4 separate regions of the Homo sapiens genome follow, and all the other regions are reported to be linked to region 2. Evidence: microRNA targets listed by miRTarBase, many of them from high-throughput screens and not tested one by one. Region 2 holds a microRNA gene; each other region holds the end of a gene's coding sequence.
What was found. The annotated mature microRNA hsa-miR-3913-5p reads UUUGGGACUGAUCUUGAUGUCU and lies in region 2 at 1,294-1,315, shown strand. An mRNA with a match to its seed (bases 2 to 7 or 8) in the 3' UTR can be bound and repressed. Matches are read on the target gene's strand: a 7mer-m8 pairs with bases 2 to 8, a 7mer-A1 pairs with bases 2 to 7 and ends in A, and an 8mer does both.

Region 1: miRTarBase lists GLP2R as a target of hsa-miR-3913-5p. The part of its 3' UTR that is shown has no 7-base or 8-base seed match.
Region 3: miRTarBase lists ZNF451 as a target of hsa-miR-3913-5p. Seed matches in the 3' UTR shown: 7mer-A1 at 536-542.
Region 4: the mRNA of MRRF is a reported target of hsa-miR-3913-5p. Seed matches in the 3' UTR shown: 7mer-A1 at 3,845-3,851.

Annotation. Positions count from the first base shown.
Region 1 is chr17:9,889,337-9,893,336 of GRCh38, reverse strand. GLP2R (glucagon like peptide 2 receptor) reads right to left here. Exons shown (of 13, transcript NM_004246.3): 13 at 1,238-3,967. The coding sequence ends at 3,632. Among named protein-coding and RNA genes, the nearest start is that of RCVRN, 14 kb to the left of the region's middle.
Region 2 is chr12:69,583,451-69,587,859 of GRCh38, forward strand. MIR3913-2 (microRNA 3913-2) reads left to right here and starts at 1,273; the gene lies at 1,273-1,372. It overlaps CCT2 (chaperonin containing TCP1 subunit 2), which reads left to right and starts at 2,009. Exons shown (of 16, transcript NM_006431.3): 1 at 2,009-2,074; 2 at 2,820-2,894; 3 at 3,303-3,368; 4 at 4,055-4,166. The coding sequence starts at 2,072. MIR3913-1 (microRNA 3913-1) reads right to left here and starts at 1,373; the gene lies at 1,272-1,373. RefSeq lists an enhancer at 2,040-2,379.
Region 3 is chr6:57,168,255-57,172,254 of GRCh38, forward strand. ZNF451 (zinc finger protein 451) reads left to right here. Exons shown (of 15, transcript NM_001031623.3): 15 at 169-2,051. The coding sequence ends at 215. ZNF451-AS1 (ZNF451 regulatory antisense RNA 1) reads right to left here and starts at 3,959. Exons shown (of 4, transcript NR_110742.1): 1 at 3,820-3,959; 2 at 2,751-2,844.
Region 4 is chr9:122,322,211-122,326,210 of GRCh38, forward strand. MRRF (mitochondrial ribosome recycling factor) reads left to right here. Exons shown (of 7, transcript NM_138777.5): 7 at 330-4,000. The coding sequence ends at 407. Among named protein-coding and RNA genes, the nearest start is that of PTGS1, 47 kb to the right of the region's middle.

The sequences.
Region 1 (4,000 bases), not on the chromosome of region 2:
ATGTAGAGTTTCAGTTCAGGAAGATGAAAGAGTCCTGGAGATGGATGGTGGTGACGGCTGCACAACAGTAAGAAGGTACTTCATGCCACTGAACCATACACTTAATAATGGCTGGCCGGGCGCGGTGGCTCACGCCTGTAATCCCAGCACTTTGGGAGGCCAAGGCGCGTGGATCACCTGGGGTCAGGAGTTTGAGACCAGCCTGACCAATATGGTGAAACCCCATCTCTACTAAAAATACAAAAATTAGCCAGGAGTGGTGGCAGGCGCCTGTAGTCCCAGCTACTCGGGAGGCAGAGGCAGAAGAATTGCCTGAACCTGGGAGGTGGAGGTTGCGGTGAGCCGAGATCACAGCACTGCACTCCAGCCTGGTGACAGAGCAAGACTCTGTCTCAAAAAACAAAAAGAAAAAAAGATGGCTACAATGGTTAATTTTATGTTATATATATTTTGCCACAATTTAAAAAAGATCACTCAGGAACTTATAAAAATCCCAATGCCCAGGTCTAGTAAGACCATTTCAATCAGAACCTCTGGGGTCAGACCCTGTCACTGGTCTTTTAAAAAAGCTTCCCAGGGGGCTGGGCGTGGTGGCTCACACTTGTAATCCCAGCACTCTGGGAGGCCGAGGCAGGCAATCACCTGAGGTCAGGAGTTCAAGACCAGCCTGGCCAACATGGTGAAACCCCGTCTCTACTAAAAATACAAAAAAAATTAGCTGGGCCTGGTGGCTCACGCCTGTAGACCCAGCTCCTCGGGAGGCTAAAGCATGAGAATTGCTTGAACCCGGGAGGTGGAGGTTGCAGTGAGTTGAGATCATGCAACTGCACTCCAGCCTGGGAAACAGAGTGAGACTGGGTCTCAAATAAATAAATATAAATAAAAATAAATAAAAAGCTTCCCAAGGGATTGTAATGCGAGGATTGAGAACCACTAGACTAGATCTTCAAAGCAACAGGCAAGCTGAGTGACCAATGGGGTGGTCTATAAAAGGGGAGACACTCTCCTTCCATTCTTTTGACCTCTGACCTCTGCTTCTGGTCCCGGCCCCTCTGCCCACTCCTCTGGTCCCTAAGACCAAATTTAAGATATTGGAGCACCCAGGTCCCTGGCTAAACGCCACAGCCCTTTTCCTCACTTCTGGCCAGGAATAGTGCATCGCATTCTTCATGGGTGGGAGAGACCTTCAGCTCCAGTGAGAGACAAATGTAAAAGAATCAACAAAATGCAAATGAAATTAAATAAACTTGTTTTAATCATTAGCAGAACAAGAGCAAGCAGTAAGTGTTGATCACCCCATTTGTGGAGTGAGGGGTGGAGGGAGTATTTATAAATGCTTTGAAAAAAAGTTTCTCCTCTTAGCGGTAAGGTCCTGGATCACTTACTCCCAGCAGCATCCGAGGCTCCCGAGAGCCATTTCTGTGCTGTCTCATTCCAGGAATGTGTGTGGAGCACCTGCTCTGAACCGGCACTGTGCTGGGTACTTGCTGGGAATACGAGATGACCCCAGCTTTCTAGGAGCTAATTGGCTGATGAGCCGAGGCAGGGACATTTGCAGAAAGGAGAAAAATAGAAAGACATAGATTTTCATGACTGAGCTATGGATAATCTGGACACCAAAAAATAAACCTTTGCTTCATTACTTGCCTGATGCCTTTGCCTCCATCCCCATCCTAAAACCAGGGCTGGACTATGGGGTGACACAAGTGGGGATCCCATTTCAAGTGCAAAATTTAAGGGGGCCCCAAAAGTCCCCATAGTCAATATAAATAACATTTTAATGCAATTGTCTAAAAATAAAAATTCACATTAAAAGTCCCTCATAGACAACATTTGAAAGTCAGGACCAGAGCCTGCACTTGCAAGAGCTGGCCTCTCCTGCCTCACCCTTATCCTGCCCCTGGCTCCAATCAAATTTCATTTCTATAAATGGCTCATGGGCTGTAGTTTGTTAATTTGTTTTTTTAGAATATTGCATTAAAATATGATTTATTTTGATCATTTACTTTGAGCTTTTTAGAGATGAGTGCCTTGATTATTTCACCCTAGTCCCAGCCCTGTGGCAAAGTATCCTTGAAAACAGAGATGCCAGTAAAAGACAAGATGCATGATTGAATTCCAATCTCAGATTAAATATGCCCATGGGATATACTTATACAAGAAGACTATTTGTCTGAAATTCAAATTTAATTGAGTACCTTGTTTTTGTTTGCTAAATATGGCAGCCCTGCTTGAGGAGTATCAAACTGACTCCCCCGAAGACAAGGTGGTATTTAGTCCCATAGCAACATACCCCACCCACGTACACATGCATTTTACATACCATGAAAGTGACACTCCTGTGCATTAACACACTGTTTCCAAAGGATGTCCATCCCTTGATCTTCCTACAGCCTCTTGCCCTATACTTTCAGTCATTGAGCCTGACCCCAACTGCCTGGGCCCTCCTCAGCCTCCATGGGTCACAGTAGGCAGGAAAGATCCCACAGGCTGGTGGATGCAAAGTCTTGGATCTCTCAGAGCCACCCTGGGCATGTCCAGATCCAGCCAAACTCCTATTGCTTTACCTGGGCCCTCCTGCTTTCAGTATTTATTCCCACTGGGCAAATTGAATTCTGATCAGCAGGGACTCTGGCCATGGAGAGTTATAGGTCAACTTCCTGGGACAACAGGTGTGACAATCAATGCATCAATGGCAAACCAAAAATGGTGGGGACATTCCTTGCCCCAAGAGAATGGTAGTGTAAATCAGGCTGGTAGAAGCCAAACTCAGAAAGGTAGATAGAGCCAGAAAGGAGAGGAACAGACCAAAGACGACATTCAGAGGGTCCCCAGGCACTGGGGCCAATCCTCAAAGGGAGGATCAAGCAGAACTCCTGCTGTGCAGGGACAGAGAACTGAGGCAAAGAGAGAGAGAGGCAAGACTTGATAGGAGAGGAAGAGCAGAGAGGAGTGGCACTCTGGTGGGTGGAGTTACATACTCTCCAAGGAGGGCAGGCACACCCCAGCTGACCTGGGAGAGCAGACTGTCTCTTGCAGCATCCTGCCATGGCCACATGGGGGCGCTTCTAGCTCCCTCTCACCCTGCCCAGTGTTCTCCAAGGGTGGGCTTGCAGCAGAATTACCTGGGATGCTTATTAAACAGCTCCAATTCCTGGCCATGGTCCCAGACTCACTGTCTTAGAATCTTAGCCACAAGTCTAGGATTCTGCATTTTAAAAGCTTCCTAGGAGGTTTTCACGCACCCTAAACCCAACCTCAGATGGAAAGCATGCACCCCAAGGGATAAAGGAAGAGATATTGGCTGGCTTCTCTATAACAGGAGACCTCTCTTCATGGTGGGACTTCATTGGCTTGAATTTAGAGCCAGGCCCTAGGGTCTGGTGGGCATTGTGGAAAACACACTGGTGGGGGTTATTAGGATGAGAAGAGCAGGCAGAGGCTGTGAGCATGACACACAGCCTCTTTCATACAGAGCTTGAAGAACCTTGTGATAGCTTTCATATCAAAGTGGCATGGTGAATGGAACGAGAATGATTCCGTGCCCAGCAACGTGTGTCCTGCTTTGCTTCCTCTTCCTGGGCCCCCTCAAGAGTCCCTGGGAGCAGAGCCAGGGTGGTGGAACTCCACCCTAGATCTCACTCTCTTCCAGAATCTCCTCCATGGTGTTGGCCATGGTGACATCCCCCTCACTGCACTCGGACAGGCTGCTGCCCCGGGGCCAGCGTGCATGGTCCTGTTGGGGCTGGGCGCCCAGCTCCCCAAGACCTCGCATGGCTAGATGTAGGAGCCGCCCACTGTTAAGTGAGGGCTGCAGCTTCCGAAGCTTCTCAGCGCCATCTCCTTCCGAGAGCTTCTTGGGACATTTTCCTAGGAACCGGAAGTCCTTCCCCAGGACACAGGCTCTGCAGCCTGAGTGGCGGGCTAGCAAGAAGCGGACCCAGTATTTCCGCAGCTCAGCCTTCACCTGCCGGGTGAGACAAGTGAGAGGTTACTGTCT
Region 2 (4,409 bases):
GGAGCAGTCATTGGTTTCCCCATCACACACAGTCTCAGGCTTGCCTACCAGAGGACATAATAAATATCTCCAGGTATGTAATTTTGCCCACAATAAAAACAACCTTTTTCAATATTGTGCAGGCATCTTAGTTTTTTATTGTGAATCTTCTCATTCCAGAATGCGATTTGGGATCTGCCTAGGAAAGTACATTTCCTGAAAGAAGACCAAATTTTCCTACAAAGAAGAGAAAACTCTTGGGAGATTTAAAATAACAATTTGTCCAGCCTGAACTCCCCTTTTCATGTTGGACCTGAGGAATACTGTAAACCAGGGTCAGCAAACTTTTTCTGTAAAGAATTAGATAATACATGTTTTAGGTTTTGTGGGCCCATTCAACCTGTCATGACTACTCAACTCTGCCACATAACTCTGCTATCGTATTGTGACAGAGTAAATATGTATGGGTATGCCCATGGATTCCAATGAAGCTTTATGGACACTGAAATATTAATTTCACAGGATTTTCATGTGTCAGGAAATTTTTGATTTCTTTCAACCACTTAAAAATGTAAAAACTATTCTTAGCTCTCAGGCCATACAAAAAACAACTGGCAGGCTGGGTTTGACTCCTCACAGCTTGCCAACCCCTGGTGGAAATCAACCCACTTAGAGGAAATCTGAAGGGTAGAAACAACTAAAAAATTGAAAATTCCTGTTAATGTTAGCAATGTCAAAAATCCAGGAGACCCCAGCTACTCAGGAGACCAAGGCAGGAAGATTGCTTGAGCCCAGGAGTTCCAGGCCAGCCTGGGCAACATAGAAGACCCCATCTCTAAAAAAAACAAAACAGAAAAAGAAAAATCCAGGAGCTTGTTTTGTTTTGTTTTTGTTTTGAGACAGAGTCTCGCTCTGTTGCCCAGGCTGGAGTGCAGCGGCGTGATCTCGGCTCACTGAAACCTCTGCCTCCCGGGTTCAAGCAATTATCCTGCCTCAGCCTCCTGAGTAGCTGGGATTACGGGCATGCACACCACGCCCGGCTAATTTTTGTATTTTCAGTAGAGACAGGGTTTCACCATGTTGGCCAGGCTGGTCTCCAACTCCTGACCTCAGGTGATCCGCCCACCTCGGCCTCCCAAAGTGCTGGGATTACAGGGGTGAGCCACCGCGCCCTGCCGAGGAGCTTAAGCGATCAGTTAGTCAAAGGGAGAAAAGAGGGTATCAGTAGATGACAGAAAAATTTTTTAGAGAACAAATTTTTAGACATCCGTCAACTTAGAGAAAGTAGAAAACTGTCTATAATAAACTGAAATATTTGGGACTGATCTTGATGTCTGCCAAGGTTTTGGCAGACATCAAGATCAGTCCCAAATATTTCAGTTTATTATAAACAAAGACTAATAAGTCGTCTCTACTATTGGAGGAAAAAAAAAAAAAAGACCGAAATGCAAAAATTCCTGAAAATGAGTAAATAGGGCAAAGATAAAATACTATAAATGTCTCTCTCAGTTCACAAGACCTTATCCTGGGCAGTCAACGTCCAGTTAGAAATAACGTCTGAAAATTCAGTAAGAGAAAAGGAAGTCTTCTTCTGTAATACTCAGTAAATAATGTTTAAAATTAACATAGCAATAATATTATCTGGGAATATGATAGTAAATAGCCCCTCCAAAAAACTGAAAAAGTTGAAAGCAGTTTTCCTGGAGACAGGAAGTGGTGAGGCAGATAAATTATGTTTTTCCTTATTGGTATATAACACTTTAAACTGTGTACATGTGTGACTTTAATAGAAGTGTTTAAAGATTAAATTTAAGAAAATAAAAAGTGTGAGCAAGAACTCCATTTCTATGGCAACCCGCGCGGCAGCCGCCTCTTTGTTCTGGAGCGGCGGCCACGCCCCCTCCAGTGTGAAAGGCTGCGTTTCCGGCCCGTGGGGCTCCAATCAAAATGGGACGCCTGCTGGCGGTAACGACAGGCCGGGGCCCCGCCCCCCGAAGTAGGGCGTGTGGCGTCACTTCCGGCTTCCTTCAGTCCGCTGGTCCCGAGCACGAGCTGTGAGGGGATTCACTTGTGTGCGGAACTCCTCGGAACCATGGTGAGCCTGACTCCCCTGCCTCTTGCCCTACCCCTGCTCCGCCGTGCTCTTGCCACCCCACTGCTTCCTCTGTCCTGCTAGGGTCGTAGGCTCCGTTTCTGTCTCCCCGGCCCTCCGCACATGGTGCGAGCCATGCGCGGGGCGTGCGGCCTGCGCCAGGCCAGCCGGTGGAGCTCACCACGAGGGGGAGGGGTGGACCGCAAAGCCAGCGTCTCCTTGTGCCTAGGTCTTTGCATAGTCCCGGCAGCCCAGGTCCGCGCCTCACCCGGAGCGAAGAAATTTCTAGTGTGGGACCCGCTCCGCCCTCCTTCTAGGGGCGGAGCCTGGAGCGACGGGGTCTGAGCCATCAGAGGGTGGAGGGGCCGCAGCCTTCCGAGGGTGGAAGATGGAGGCCGCGTTCCCTCGCCCGCCCGGCAGGCGTCACCTTGATGGCCTGCAACCCCTCCCTGCCTCATTCTTAGTTCAAGATCGTCTTTAGTCTCGCTGTACGTAACTGTCAATCTCGCTGGTGTATAATTTATACTCCCGGGGGCCTTGTAAATCCGAAAAGCCATGTCGCTCTCCTACAAGTCCCTCTCTCCCACTTAAATGCTTTCTCCGATGATGGAAGCTTCATTTGATTGAAAACATTGTTGTAAATGAGTTTTCTCTTAGATGTCCACTTGTAAGACTAGTGGAAGGCACCTCAGTGTATGTGTTAGAGTATTGGTACTTAAACGGAATGCCTCTTGGTTTTCCTTTTCAGGCGTCCCTTTCCCTTGCACCTGTTAACATCTTTAAGGCAGGAGCTGATGAAGAGAGAGCAGAGACAGCTCGTCTGGTAAGCCTTGTTCTAAGCATTGTTTTAAAGATAAAACTGGAGGCCAGGCGCGGTGGCTTACTCCTGTAATCCCAGTACTTTGGGAGGCCGAGGTAGGCGGATGAACTGAGGTCAGGAGTTCGAGACCAGCCTGGCCAACATGGTAAAACCCCGTTTCTACTAGAAATACAAAAATTAGCCGGGCGTGGTGATGGGCACCTGTAATCCCAGCTACTCGGGAGGCTGAGGCAGGAGGATCGCTTGAACCCAGGAGGCGGAGGTTGCAGTGAGCTGAGATCGCGCCATTGCACTCCAGCCTGGGCGACAGAGCGACACTCTGCCTCAAAAAAAAAAAAAAGTAAATAAAGATAAAACTGTACTTGAAGACTGTAAAGTTGATTCTGATAATCTCCTTGGTTTTTACTCCAGACTTCTTTTATTGGTGCCATCGCCATTGGAGACTTGGTAAAGAGCACCTTGGGACCCAAAGGCATGGTAAGAAAAATAGAAAAGTTTTATATTTTAATATTGTTTTAGAGCGCTTGGTGGAAATATAATAACAAGCGTATTAAAATGCTTTTTAATCTTTAAAACGTTTAATTATAAAAGACAAGTATGTTCTCCTTAGTAAAAATCAGAGTCCCCAGAATCACCATCCCCAATCCCATGCCCCTCCCCAATGACAAGTACTGTTATCATTTGCACGTACATCTTCTAATATTCTGTTTATGTAGAAGTATGTGTACTTCATTATGTATTTTATACTCATGTAACATACTGTTTTATAAAACAGATACTATTTATCAATACTTTTTTGTAGCTTGCTCTTTTAAATTCCTTTCAGTGTAAGTAGATAACACTGCCCCTTTAACTGTCAAATATTATCCTGTACCTTAATTATTTTATAATTTAATTATGGCTGTATTGATAGTTTCTTTCCATTGTTTTTGCAGTTACGGTGTTGAAACAAAAACTAGTGTCTACCTGTGCTTCTAGTGTTTCTAGGGGTAGATACATGGTTTGGTTACGTGGTGTATGTATTGAAAACATTTGATGAATGGATACCACAAAATAGCTATCCAGAGTGTTTATACACTAGCACTGTGTGAGAATACTGATTGATCCATGCATTCTTCAAGATGTGCTTATGTCTTAACTTGAACCAATTATGTTCCCTTTAGGACAAAATTCTTCTAAGCAGTGGACGAGATGCCTCTCTTATGGTAACCAATGATGGTGCCACTATTCTAAAAAACATTGGTGTTGACAATCCAGCAGCTAAAGTTTTAGTTGGTAAGTCTGAATATACTTTTTCACCAACCTAATAATACTGTTTGTTAACATTTTTGAAATAACTTTATAAATAGGCTGTGTTGACCAATCGTACTGTCAATTGATGTCCACTAGTTGTTAATTATCGTTGTTAAAATACAAGCTTCAGGAGTGCCCGTATGTTGGTGGTAAAACTGTTGCATTTCAGACCTCAGAGTTCCAAATAATTTGTTGAATGAGGAACCCTGGTAAGTTTAGATTGGT
Region 3 (4,000 bases), not on the chromosome of region 2:
TTCAAAATACTCAATTTTTTAGTAGAGAAACTGCCAAGTTATCCTGTGTTTTTCCATTTTGATTTTACTTTCCTTCTTGAAAAGAATACAGTCGATGAAACTTAAATAAATACAGCACATGTTGAGTTTTCTGCCCTAAGTGTTAAAATTCTATGTTTTTTAATGCAGATGTGGAATTAGAAGAAGCTATTAGAAGAAGTCTTGAGGAAATGTAATTAAAGATATTACCACACAACATCAAGTGGCCTTGAAGAGACTGAGATAACGAATTCTTGAGTTTGTTTTCTAAAGGAGACCAGAAATCCACTATTACAAATGTATTTGAAAACATGTTTTTGCTTTCATATGTTCAAAATCTGATCTTTGTTTTGTATTTTTGTGCTAATGTGCAAACATGTACAGAAGAAATAGAATACATGTTCATGCAAATATAAATTATGTATTCTAATATAGGTGTAACAGTTTCCCAGTTAACTTTGAATTTATATATTTAGATTTAAAGGATTAAAAAAAAGGAAAGCTCTTGACAGTTGTTTCCCAAATAGCATTAGTTCTTTAATTTTATTTGTACTGTACAAATGATGCTAGTTTATTTTTTTAGCAGTGAAAATGAATATAAAAAAGGTGACATAGGTCAAGTTTTCCATAAATTCTACTTCTCATGTGGCACTATTATATAATACCTTTGAGATCTTTGTTTATGTTTATTAGAAGAGGGTAATGGAAACTGATCATGGAAACATTTAAAATTTTATCAGCAATGTTCTTTGTGGGTGCCATGCATATGTAAATTATTGCTTTAATTAGAGCAGCACATTGCTAAAATAAAAAATACACCTTAATTTTTAAGAAATAATTTAAATGAAACAATTTCCATTCCTTTTACCTGCTTAGACTTTTATGTGACTTGTATGGTCTCCTGGTTAAAGGGAATGGTGTCAGAATATTTGCATAAAATTATTTTTCATAACAGTCCTTTTTTATATATTGGTGTAAACATAATATTCTTCAAGAAATAATGTTGAAAGCCTACTCAGGAATAATCTTCCTTAACTCTTTAAATTTTTATTTCATGTGAAGTGTTTTCAGTTTAGTTATTCACTGAATTGTCAGTTTCCTTCATTTGGTATTACATATTTAATTCTTAAATATTGAGGCCCCATTGTGAGTAATAAAAAATACGACATAAGTAGAAGACTAAGAAGGGCTTGTCATATTATCTTTGTGTATATGCTTCATGTTATTTAACCAGAAATGTCTTATCTCTAAAAATTTTTAGTAGTAATTATTTACCAAACTTAAAAACATTTCTATAAATATAAAGCTTTTCTTTATATTTAAGACAAAATATAAAGGCTAGAATTTGGTTCCTTCTCTGTAACACTAAATATTTTAGTGTGAAATTGAATTTTTTTATTACTATAGTCTTTTCAATCTATAATTTGTGTTTTTAATTTCTTGATATGTCACTTCTGTTCCTCCCTGCTTGCATTTTTTAAAAACTAGACATTGTGGCTTGAGAATTTATCAATCATCTTTCCGAAATGACCACATTGTGCTTTTAGTTTGTATGTTTAAGTGGTCAAGCAAGGCTCTAGGAGGTAGTCACTGAGCTGGACCTTAAACACATCTGCAGGAGCTCACAAAATGGGAGCAAAAGAGGCATTCCAGAAAGAAGAGTAGTTAAGCAGATGTGGGGGCAGGGCAAGAGGAGACAGCACCTTGTTGCCAGAGATTCTACACAAAGGTGTGATGGACACTGATGCTCTATTAAGAAGCTTTTGTGGTGTGTGTGGTAGAGAATAATTAAGGCTTCTGATAAGACAGGAAAGGGATATTTCATCATGACTGTTAAGAAAAGGTAACTGGGTTGTTTAATGTTTTAATTGATAATTGTCACTGATCGTATTTCTACTTGTTAAATAATTAAAAATCATCTTAAAATTCATACTTTGACTTTAATTTAGACACAAGGAGATGTAATCGCTGTGTAACATCAGAGAAAGCTATATGGATTATCGTCAGAAGTAAATGTTTCTAACATTGACAAAGATGCTTATCTTTTCATTACATCATTCACTCATTAATTCATTCAATCACAAAATATTGAGTACCCACCATGTGCCAGCAACTGTTCTAAGCACTTGGAATATACCAGTAAGCAAAACAAAGCCCTTACCCCTCTGTGGAGCACATATTGGTGGAGAGGAGGGGATTGTACAATGTTAGTAAGCAAGGCAATAAAACTGCATATCTGATGGTGATACGTGTAACGACGGAAAATAAAGAAGGGAAGGGAATAAATAGTGCAGGGACAGGGAGTTGGGGGGAGGCTTGCTATTTTTAATAGGGTTGTCAGAAAAGATCTCACTGATAGGTAAACTTGAGCAAAGACCTGAAGAAGGTGAGGGAATGAGGATGAAAATACATATCGGGAAGAGAGTTCCAGGTGGAGGAGGTTAAGGTCCAGACAGGAGCTTAGTATATTCAAGGAAAAGCAAGAAGACTAGTATGGCTGACAGGATGAGCTAGGAGAGTAATAGGAAATGAACTTACTGAGGTTTTTCTAATGACCTGGGCTTTTACTTTGAGGTAAGGAGCCAGTGAAGGTTTCTGAGAATAAATGGTATGATCTGCCTTATTTAGGATTGCTGTAGTTGCTGCACTGAGATAACATGTACATGAGAGGCAAGAGTAGAAGCAGGGAGACCAGAGAGGAAGGTATTGTAGTATTCCAGGTGCAAACTCACCAGGTAGCTTGAACCAGAATGGTGGCGGTAGAATTGGGAAGAATCTGGATATATTCTGAAGGCAAAATTGATGGGGTTTACTAATGGTGTGGATCTAGGATAAGAGAGAAAAAGAGTTCAGGATGATTCTAAAGTCACTTGATAGACTTTCAAACCACTCACAAAATGTGTTTTGTTTTCGTTTGTGTCATGATAAAGTTATTTTTAATAAGGTCAAATAATCCCCTACCCCAAGAGTTAATTAGGATTTAAAATGAGTTCAGAGGGAATTGGGATCCAGCCTTAAGGGCTTCAACTCTGTTCAAGTATTTAAATGGCTTTGATCTCTGATTAAAGGTGGTGGCTCAGCTTTAAACTATTATTATCTATCATTTTCTGTGCCCTGTACATTGTCATCCTTGCAATGAGAGGCATAGAGCTATCAGGAGAGGGGACTAAAGCCTAACTTTTTAAGTAGACTAATCTTTGTATCCTCAGCTCTATTCCGTCTTTTACCGACAGCTGGTGCCTGACCTAGAGGCCTACTGCATCTTTTTTGTTAACAGGATTTTTAAAAGTTGAGGACTTTTTAATGCCAATTATTTCACTCAGAATATTTATTTATTTATTTATTTTTTTGAGACAAGGTCTCGCTCTATCGCCCAGGCTGGAGTGCAGTGGCGAGATCTCGGCTCGCTCAACAGGAATAATTTTAATAGCAAAAATTTAAAACCCCTTCATTAAGCCAGGCGTGGTGGTTCACATCTGTAATCCCAGCACTTTGGGAGGCTGAGGTGGGAGGACCGCTTGAACCCGGGAGGTCGAGGCTGCAGTAAGTCGTGATCGCGCCACTACACTCCAACGTGGGCGACAGTTAGACCCCATCTCAAAAACAAAAGAAAATTAGAATGGTAAAAATGAAGTAAATTCACTTTGCTTCCCACATCTAGCTAGACAGGGAAAGATGGAGTAGCTTTTTCTTTTTTACTTCATAGCTTCAGTGTTGTCCGGGCTTTCATTACTCTCATCTCAGTATAAAGTGGTAACAGGAAGGTCAGGTGAGTGTGGGCTGCCTACGAGCTGTACTTACTGCCTTCTGTTTCACAAAAGGACGTTTTCTCCCCATAATGTCGTTGTTCTTGCTTTGAATTATGGGTGCTGGGAGAAACTAAACGAAGCCGTCACTGAGCAATACACCCACAGCCCGTCGACCGATAGGAACCTTCGCGTGGGGGGAGTTGGTTACTTTTAGGTTGCATGAAGAGGCGGGG
Region 4 (4,000 bases), not on the chromosome of region 2:
AAATTAGCCGGGCGCGGTGGCGGGCACCTGTAGTCCCAGCTACTCGGGAGGCTGAGGCAGGAGAATGGCGTGAACACAGGAGGCGGAGCTTGCAGTGAGCCGAGATTGCACCACTGCACTCCAGCCTGGGCGACAGAGCGAGACTTTGTCTCAAAAAAAAAAAAAGAATGTATATATAAAGTTCTTAGTACAGTGCCTGACTGGTACTTAATGTGAACTTTTGTCACTATTATTATTTCTCACATAACCTTTTCATGTTTCTGGAATATTCATCCCCCTACCCTTTTCCAGCCCCATTAATCAGGCTGTCTCATTTTGTGTTCTTGCAGATCAGCCAAATGGCCGATGACACAGTGGCAGAACTGGACAGGCATCTGGCAGTGAAGACCAAAGAACTCCTTGGATGAAAGTCCACTGGGGCCAGCAATACTCCAGAGCCCAGTTTCTGCTGGATCCCATGGGTGGCACATTGGGACTTCTCTCCCTCCCCCATCTACACAGAAGACTGTCACCATGCTGACAGAAGCCTGTCCTTGTAAGGCCCAGCCTTCCAGGGGAACACTCAGACATGTTCATTCTCTTCCTGCTTCTGCTCTGGGCCGGTGGGTGGCTCTCAGAAAATACTTGCTGCTGGCAAAAGGCCTGTACTCAGGCATTTGCTTTGACTTGATGTTGCCAAGGGACTGAGGCCATTGGCAGGCTTAGTACCACCTGCTCCTCATCTTAGGAGTCTCCTTTTCAAATAATTAGGCTCTGTTCCCATTTTAAAACTCTGATATTGGCCTTCACCTGTGACTGGACACTTTACTAGAGGCCCATTTTCACTAAACAATAAAATCTAAATAAATTGGAAGGAATAACAACCACAAAGGAAAGAATAGAGTTGGTCTGGATTGATGATCACTGAGGATCTGTATGTGAGGCACCCATAACAGTAGTTTTGCCTGTGAGTCGTCTTCACACATGCTGTTTTCTCTGCCTGGCTCTCTCTTCCCCTCCTTACCTGGCCAGTCCTGTTTATCATCAGGCCTTGTCTTGGATATCACGTCCTCTGGGAAGTCTTCTTTTCCCCTCTAACCTAGGACCCTCATTACCGGCTCTCATAGCACAGTCTACTGCTTTGTACGAATTCTAAGTATTCTTGTTGCACTTAATTAGCCTGTATATCCTCAGAACTTTGTGTAATGCCTGGAGCATAGTAGGCAGTCATATGTTGTATCGTGAATAAATTGCACATAGTAGCTACCCAGCAAATGCTGACTTCTTTTCTTTCTAGTCTTAACACTCCCTTTCTATCATTTTCCACTCTTGTACTTGTTCTCAACATTTACTTGGTAGTGACATACCTTTCCTGCAGGGCCTGCCCATTGTTGACAGACAAGTAGTTTATTGTGGCTTATCTTCGGATACTGGGTTATTAGGTTTTTTTCCCTCCAATTATTTTTTATTCATTCATTCATTCCTAATATAGCCATTATGAGTTAGGTATAGTTCTAGGCATTATTTATAATCTTGACAGTAAACTTAAGAGATGTGTATTATCTTCATTTACAAATAGGAAAACTAAGTCTTGACAGTATTAGGTAATTTGCCCAAAGTAACAAAGCAAAGCTGATCAGTGGTAGAAGGTTTTCATGATTCATTGTCAGCGTCATTTACATAGAGGTGAAGTTTCTTGTGCAGGGTTACACACCTAGCAAGTAGCAGAGCTGGCATTCAAATTGAGGCCTGATGTGCTAATGTAAAAGGAAAAAAACAAACTTTTTTTCCTTTTGTACTTTCACACTCAACATGGAACACTTCTGTGACAAGGTGTGTGAGTTTGTTTCCCCCACACACCAAGCAATTCTCCAGCAGACACCAACTGGGTATCCTATAATTCAATTCATTTCTGACATTACCTGGAAATAGTGTCAGATCCCACAGGTTGAGGGCTCCATCTCCCAAGACTGCCAACACTTTTGATGCCAGTCATGAGTCTGGGCCACCCATACTCCTGACTGACCAACTACAAACTAGAGTCCTTGATTTCCTTTGGTTCAGTTAATTTCCTAGGACAGCTCACACAACTCAGGGAAACACGTTCACTGGTTTATTATAAAAGATACAGCTGAACAGCCCAATGAAGGAGGTACACAGGGCAAGGTTGAGGGAGAGGGAGAGGGTGTGGAGCTTCCATGCCTTCTCTGGGCTCACACTCTCTCAGCACCTCACCAATCTGGAAGGAACCACTGTGTCCTGCTGCCTTCATTAGCATTTAGTGAGCACCAATTGTTTGTCAGGTGCTGAACTATGTACTGGCAATACAAAAATGGGAAAGATATGACCCCTGTTTTGGGGGGGTACATAGTGCACTGAACTAAATTGCTGTCTATAATAATCTATTGGGTGGAAAAGTAGGAAGTTCATTCCAGTTCTGCAAGGTGTCTGCTTTCAGAATGGAGCCCACTTTGGTGGTGGCAAGGCCTGGCTGAGTTCTTTCAAAGCAACATCCAACTTCTCTTTGCTCTTTGACTTCCTCCAGATTCTCTCCTGTGCTGGAGGTAATAAGGGTTGCACTTCCCTCTTTACTTACACTGGTGAAACATGCAGTGAGGATTCAAGGTCAAAATTGGGTCAAAGTTAAACTAACACAGTCTCCTGCCCCACTTACCTGTCCTCTAACCCCATCCACCAGCCCTAAGTGGTCATCACATGATCAGAAGTCAGCTGGGGGAAGAGCAGGGATAGATAGAGCAATTAAGGAGCCTCTTTTGGGGTAAGCCACATGACAGGGGCTTTGCAACAGTCTTTCATGAGTGGCCGAAATCCCCCACTCACTGCAAATGTGCTTCTCAAAGATGCAGGATTTTTTAATAAACAGAGGAAATGATAAATTATGTTGTAATTCCACTCCAAAGGCATTTGGTTCTTAACAGCCAAATCCTCTGTAGTCTTTAAATAAACAAAAACTTATTTGGTGAACAGACAGGGAGGAAAATGAAAGATTTTCTGTACTTGGGTTCCACATGTCAACAATTTCTCTCCTGTGTGTATGTTGGCCAAAGCTGTATCATGATAAATGAATAAAGGAAAACCTCGAGCCCAGGGCAGTCAGACAGCTCAGCAAATGGCTTTCAGATGATTACTCAATTTCAGTTGACATTTATCAAAGAGTTTCTCTGTGACTCTGTGTCAGGGCTGTAGTGGTGACAGGGACAAGAATGAGACTACCTGTTTGGATGTGCTGAGAATGAGTAATGCTGGAGCAATTCATTCTCCATCTCTTCTCTCCTACAGCCTCTCTCAAAAAGAAACACTGGGTATGGAAATTCTCACACTTGCCAGAAGAATTAACCACCTCTTCTATTCAGTTTAATGACTTTCAAAGTCCTATGAAATATTCAGGCCAGAGAGAATTTGAGAATTTTTTTCCTGTCTGGTGTGTGTGTGTGTGTGTGTGTGTGTGTGTGTGTGTGTGTGTGTGTGTGTGTGTTGGAAATTACAAAATAAGTTGGAATGCAGAAAGTTAAAAAAAAAATCTCACCAGGCCCTACTCCTTTAAAATTAGGTATATATCTTTCCAGACCTCCTTTCTCTGTGCATATATGTGTGTGTGTGTGTGTGTGTTCGTTTCATTTTGTTTTGCCTTTGAGACAGTGTCTCACTCTGTCGCCCATCATGCAGTGGCACAATCATAGCTCACTGCAGCCTTGAACTCTTTGGCTCATGCAATTCTCCCACCTCAGCCTCCTGAGTAGCTGGGACTGCAGCTATGCACCACCACACCTGGCTTTTTTTTTTTTGCTTTGTTTCCTAGGCTGGTCTCAAACACCTGGCCTCAAGCGGTCCTTCTGCCTCAGCCTCCCAAAGCGCTGGGATTACAAGTGTGAGCCACTCTGCCTGGCCATATATAATTTTTTTTTTTTTTTTTTTGCAATGGAGTCTTGCTCTGTCGCCCACGCTGGAGTGCATTGGCGCAATCTCGGCTCACTGCAACCTCTGCCTCCCTGGTTCAAGC